Homo sapiens: one gene and its partner. The protein of the gene in region 1 purifies or fractionates together with the protein of each later gene. This does not show direct contact. Each region holds a gene or a part of one and is shown on either strand. Other genes may lie near its edges.

The links. Proteins that work in one complex are often made in the same cells at the same time.
Region 2: the proteins of KIF1A (region 1) and MAPK8IP3 fractionate together in Homo sapiens (co-fractionation; one large-scale study listed by BioGRID). This does not show direct contact.

What each region holds. Positions count from the first base shown.
Region 1 is NC_000002.12:240,713,267-240,716,243, reverse strand, and holds the end of KIF1A (kinesin-like protein KIF1A), read left to right. Parts: 3' UTR 1-2,477; downstream 2,478-2,977.
Region 2 is NC_000016.10:1,761,695-1,765,194, reverse strand, and holds part of MAPK8IP3 (C-Jun-amino-terminal kinase-interacting protein 3), read right to left. Parts: intron 2,845-3,500; coding exon 2,714-2,844; intron 2,521-2,713; coding exon 2,464-2,520; intron 2,360-2,463; coding exon 2,189-2,359; intron 1,539-2,188; coding exon 1,412-1,538; intron 1,081-1,411; coding exon 985-1,080; intron 895-984; coding exon 736-894; intron 183-735; coding exon 17-182; intron 1-16.

The DNA.
Region 1 (2,977 bases):
CCAGGGCAGAGAGTTTCTGTGAGTCCCACTGAGAAAATCCCATGGGGTGGGGGTATCCTGGTCGGTCGGCAATGGAGGGTGGCTGGCTTGGTGGTTATTGTCTTCAAGGAGCTCTTCGCTGCTGCATCTGCGGTGTCCCTTTGTTCTTGTCCCATTTCACCCCCTCTGCAGACACCAATGTCCGAGGGCCACCCAGGACAGGACGGGGGTCAGCCCCAAGCTGAGAGTCTGGTCATAGGAGTCATGTCCAGAGGCCTAGGGAGGTTTTAGGGCCCTCCCCACCCACACCCACAGGTCGATTTGGTCTCTTTTTAGCTCAAGGAAAGACAGTAGCCAAGCAACAGAGCCCCTCTCCCGCCGTGGCCCGTGGGAGCAGTTACATCGGGTCTGGTGCTCCAGACCTAGGGCCCAGCACTTTCATCAGATCCTGCCTCCTGGAGTGGGGGAAACGCAGCACCCCACTGGTTCTGAGGCCCCTACCCTCCCAGGCTGTCCCACGTGATGCTGACATGAGCCTCAGAGACCCCAATCCCATGCCTGGGGGAGAGACAGCGGCTCAGGAGTGGGGGAGCACGGGCCTTCTACACCACATGGGAAGGCTCTGGCATGAGGTTTTCCTTTGGGAAGGTTGTTTGGGCCCCTGAAGTTCCATCTCCGAGAGTGGTGTGCAGGGCAGGCCAGGGCCCATGCTGGCTGCAGTCTCTGTGGCTGCCTGCCTGGGCCAGCCTGTTTGGGAGCTGGGACTGTGGGCTCGCCTTTTCGTACCTGGGCTCAGGTGCGGTGTGGCCACCGCCACCCTCATCCCCTGCCTGGGAGGCTCTCCCAGGGGCTGATGGGGGGGTTCTGTGAGGGAGAATCAGGGCTCGGGAAGCCACGCCTGGGAAGGCAGGACACAGGACACAGCAGCTTTCTTTGGAAATCTCCCAGGTGAGGATTCACATCCCAAAATAAAATTCAGAAGCCAGGTGGCCTGTGCTCCCCATGGGTGACCTCTGGAGGCAGTGGACCAAGATGCAGCAAGGAGAGGATGCAGAACAGCTTCTTGCAGAAGCACCTGCTCCGGCATCCAGCGCTGCCTGGAGGCAGGAAGGAGAGGCAGGGCAGGACACGCTGGTCTGAGATGAGGGGGAGCCCCACGGGCCCCAGGCAGGCTAGAGGAGGCACAGGCCCTGCCACGGCCAACTCAGGTCAGCCAGCCTGAGGCTGTGGCCTCCAAAGGGTCTGGGCGCACCCCCCAGGTCGCAGGTGTCTGAGGCCAGCCAACCTGCAGAGCACTCGCGGCGTGGGTGGGCTGAGTGGAGGTGCCTGGGAGCTGCCTAAATTCAGAAGCCTCCACTGCCATGGAGACTGCCTGGCTGTGTCCTCTCAGCCAGGTGCCGTGTTGGCCTTGGCTAGGACCCAGAGCCACACTGCAGCCTCCGCCGACTCCCTCCTTCCGGGCCTGCTCTAGTGAGGAGTGCCTAAGCCAGGACCCAGAAACTCAGAGTTGATGGTGAGAGGAGGCCGCCTGAGTCAGGACACCTGGCTTCTTGAAAAGTTCGCTCTGCCAGAAACCACCTAGGGACCACGTTAGCTGCCTTCCTTGAGCTCCCCAGGAGTCGGTTTCCACATCTGTGAGGTGGAGGGCTGGTGTGGAGGTGCTCATGGGGTGCGGTGCTTGGGAGACAGCCAGGCCCAGGGTGGCTGCTGCTTCCTGCTAAGTGGGGGAGGTGAGACAGATCTGGAAAGCCGTCTCCCTCAGATGGTTTCATTTAATGCTTTATACTGCCGAGTCTGGGGGCTTGTTTTGGTTTGGGGGCAGCCATCCTCCACCAGAAAGGGGGAGCTCCTTCCGCTGCGGCTCCAGATAGATGGGGATGCCGGGCTCCAGGCCGACCAGCACTTGGGATCTGATGGGACACGGCCAGTGCCTAGGGGTGCCAAGTCCAAGGCCTCCCACTGGGAGTCATCGCTGAGAAGATGCCAATGTTTCATCCACCGGCTGCACAGGCACAAACTCCCCCACCCAGGACGGCTGTGATGAGGTGGCCCTCCCTGTCAACCCTGGTCCCTGGAGTCCCCAGCACCTGGGGCCCTGGTGGGGCTGATGTCACAGGTGTTTACTGTGCTGCTGCACTGGTCCTATGCCAGCCTCACCCATGTGGGGACCACGGAAGGCACACTCCCTTACCCCCGGTGCCGGGCCGTGCGGTCCCCCAGACGGACAGCAGCTGTGGCGACCTGCGTTTCTCCCTGGGCCTGTGCTTCCTGTAGTTAGTCCGTCCCCTGGTTCCCCTGTGGCTCAGAGGCCGCGTCCCTGGCTTGTACATATGTGATTGCTGTGGGCACACCCCAGACCCCATGTCATAGCTGCCGTCCCGACGTCACGACGCCTGTCCCGATGTCTTACACCCGAGTGTTAGCCCTAGGCTCCTGTACTGTGCGTGCACTTGAGGCTCTGTCCAATTAAGAAATAAATGTGGCTCTTACTCAACACAGTCCCATGGGCTCTGCTGTGGCTTTATTTGCGTGTTACGTGTGTTGCAGGGCCCCGGAAAATGGCTGTAGGTGCATGCATCCAGCGTGGTCCAGAGACAGTACCCCTCTCCCAGTGATGAGGCAGGGAGGGGCTGGCTCTCGAGGTGGGCATGGGGAGGTGGTGGGGAAGGTGTCGAAGACTGAGTGTACACAGGGTGCTGGTCTTGGAGGATCAACCTCCACCTGCCTCCCGTGACCGGTTGCACCCCTGTGAACCAGCCCCAGGCACCTCCCCAGGGACACAGCACCTACCACCCTCATACCAGGCCACTGCACCCATCCCAGGCAGCCTCAGGCCTGGACCCTTCAGAGTCTCTAGTCCATGGGGTCTGCGCCTGGGCCCAGATCCTCAGAGCCTCCTGGAGTTCCAGAGGCCGCACCATTGCACACGAGGGCCTTAGTCTTGTCCAAGGTATGGCAGGAGTTTGTGGACCAGCGTCACACTGATGGCCGATGGGAG
Region 2 (3,500 bases), on another chromosome or scaffold:
CACTCCAGCTGCTCACCGGGGATGCTGGAGATGCACAGCACGTGCGCGTTGCAGACGGTGAACTGGTCCACCACCGTGCCCGGCTGGTTGGCGTCGATGATCACCACCTTGCTGGTGGTCAGGGTGCTGGTCAGGATCCACACCCGGCTGGAGGTGGCGTCCATTTCAGGGAGCTCCTTGGCCTGTTTCAGGGCACGGGATCAAGGTCAGAGCCCGAGCTTGAGGCTACCCGGTGGCAGCACAGGGCCATGGGGCTCCCAGAATCTGTCAGGATCCAGCCTTGACTACAGCTTGAGGGGACATGGCTGTCCTCCCCCAGGACCAGAACAATGCGGACTCAGGACTGCACTCTAAAGCACTCACAGACACGGTTTCGCCTCCACAGAAGAGGCCCCTGAGCTCCAAGAGGCCCAAGCTGGGCATAAAACTAAGCCTCCCACCACTGGGAGGCAAGCTCTGCCGCTCCTGGGCTCCTCTGTGCCTGCTGCCTGCCTGACCCCTGCAGCCCAGTGCAGGCCCACTCCAGGCCACCTGGGGGGTGAAAACTGAAAACCCAGAAGGCGGCTCAGTCCTGGTGAGGGAAGACACTGCTTCCCGCAGTCTAGGAGCCCCTGCGCTGCCCTGCTTCCGGGTGCTGTCCCCAGCTGTCCTGTGTCTCACTCCCAGCATGCTCTGCAGCTGAGCTGTCCTGAGACTAAGCCAGGGAGGGTGCCCGGTGGCCTCGGCCATGCTCACCTTCTTCTTCTCGGGAGACGTGTGGGCGCTCTTGGGCTCGCCGTCTCCTTCGCGGTCGCAGGTCAGGGGATCGCGGCCTGGCGCTGGCTTGACTCCATTCCCAGCGTCGTCCTCATTGGGCCTCCACCCGCTCAGGTTGACGCCCGCGGCACACCACAGCTGCAAGGGCAGGGCCGAGGTCGGGTGTCACCGGCACTCCCCAGCCTCCCGCTCGCCCAGCCAGCCTGAGCGGGGTCCTCGCGGGCTCACCTTCATGGTGGGGTCCTTCTCCACCAGAGGGCGGCAGTACACCGGCACCGGCACGTTCTTCATCCGCGTGTCCTCCTGGCCCCCGTTGGGACTCAGCTGCAGGGAGCAGGGAGGCGCCGTGGGCACGAACCCTGGCTCCTACCCATCCCTCCAGAAATCTGAGACAGGTAGGGCTGCCAGCTTCTGGCGGCACAGCCACTTCAAGACTGGAGGCAGGTGGGGGCGTGGGAGCCGCGGGGCTCCTTCTCCGACCCTCCAGACCCCTGCCCAGGAGGCTCACTAGGAACCTGCCAGGCCCCGCCCCACCCGCCGTCCTCTCCCACCCCCTAGCACTGCCCCGCCCTCTCCCCGCCCCACAGCGCCCCGCCCCTTACCCCCGCCCCGCCTCTGCGGGGCCCCGCCCGGTCCCCGCAGCGCCCGCCCGCACCTGCTTGTACTTGGCGGGCAGGCTCCAGCCGCAGGCCTGCAGACGGCCGTCGTCGTTACGCACGTGCTCACGCACCTGGCGGTACTGCTCGCGCTTCTGCTCTCGACGGGCGGAGGACGTGCAGTCGCTGAGTGGAAGAATGATGGGTGATGTCTCTGTCCAGGGTGAGCGGCCCCCACAGTGCCCCAGGCTTGTCCTGGGGGAGGTCACGGCAGGGAGGCCCGCCTGGGCCCATCCTCGCCTTTTCCCGGCCACCGGGTGCCCAGCTGGGAAGGGTGGCTTTCCCGGCACTGGGTGCCCAGCTGGGAAGGGTGGCTTTCCTGGCACCGGCTATGCCCCTGGGCTTGGAGGCCACAGCTGGCCCCTGCTCGACCCAGAGGCTGCTCTGCTGCCACAGTCACTGAGGGTTCCACAGACCGGGACCTGGAGTGCCGCCGGGGCACAGGCATGACCAGCGACTCCCTGCTGGACAGACGCCTGAAACGGCTCCTTGCTGCAGAGGCCACCGTGGAGCCCAGCACAGCCCCCTGACTGTTGGTGGGCACAGCCTCTGCCAAGGGACATCCTGAACCAAATACCGTGGAGCCAAAGCAGCCCAGCTCCCCGCTGCAGGGAGGGGCAGGCAGTGTGCAGGGAGAGGTCACGGCCCCTGGCATGTGGCCAGCAAGGTGGAGGCTGCCCTCAAAGTCCCGCTTCAGGGCCTGGAGGGGAGGAGCCTCAGGACAGGGCCTCCCCAACCCCATTGCAGGCCACAAGTGGGGGCTGCGGGACACTCACTCGTCAGGGAAGAATTCCAGGGGCCGGCTGCCTGCCGAGATCGGGCACATGGCATGGTTGCGGCGCTGGCTGAAGCCGGCAGTGGTGGGTGACTTGTAGTGGATGTTCACCGAGGGATAGGGGCGCTTGGCCGGAGGGGGGCTGGAGGAAGAGCTGAAGAGGCGGCTGAAGCTGCCAGAGGCACAGGGAGGTGAGGGGTGGGCAGAGGACCAGGGAACCTCCCTGCCCCTTCCCCTGCAGCTGCTGCCCACATCCCCCAGGGGCCCCCAGCTTACAACTGCCAGATGGTCGACTTCTTCTTCTCCTGGACGGATGGGTGCTCTCGGGACGCTCTGCAGGGGAGGGCACAGGGAGCAACCTGCTAGTGCCCTCACGCCTCCCTTACCTGCGACTCTCTGGCTCCCGCCAGGAAGCACCCAGCGCACTTCAGTCCCCCCAGAAGACAGGGAGGTGCAGAGGAGGGAGCCGCAGTCCTGCCGTCAGGGATGATCCCGCAGCCCCTCCTGGGGTGGCCGCAACTCCCACCTGATCATCTCAGTCCACCGCACAGCCTCCTGCAGCTCCATCAGCCGCTCCTTGTACTGGTTCCGCTCCATGAGCACACGGGCCATCTCCACCCGCGTGAAGCGGCGGCGCTGGGCCATGGGGATTTTGTCCTGCGGAGGGAGGGGCACAGAGGCTCAGCCAGCCCTCGGAGGCCGGGTGACACCTGCTTCCTCCTGGGGTGCCTACACGTATAGGTGGATCTCAGTGCCAATTTCCTTCAGATCCTCAGGCAAGAAGCGGTGTGGAGGGGTGTCGGCAAGCGGGGAGGGGAACCATACAAAAGGCATGCACCAGGACTTGGGTGCTGACAGGGGACCCGGCATCCTGCCAGGGCTGTGGTCCTGCCCAAGGGCCTGATTCTGACTCCATGTGGTCTCAGGAGTGGGGTGGCAGATGATGCCGCTGGGGTCAGGTGTCACCCAGGAGGGGTGGGAGAGCTGTCAGCCCAGAACAGCCGGCGAGTCCCCAGGAGCCCGCCTGGGCCCCCTGCCCGTGCCCACCCCAGCCCTGCATGTGAATTGTGGGATATACTGATTCTGTACAGAGACAGAAGCGCCGGTGAGTCCCCGGGAGGCACCCCGCATCCCCATGCCCCGAGTGTGAATAGTAGGATATACTGTGTGTGAATGGTGAATGGTGAATGGTGGCCGCCCAGCGTGTGAATGTGTGGGAATGATGGCTGCCCCACGTGTGAATGCGTATGAACAGTGGTCACCCGGCGTGTGAATGTGTGGGAACAGTGGCCGCCCCGCCTGGGAATGGTGAA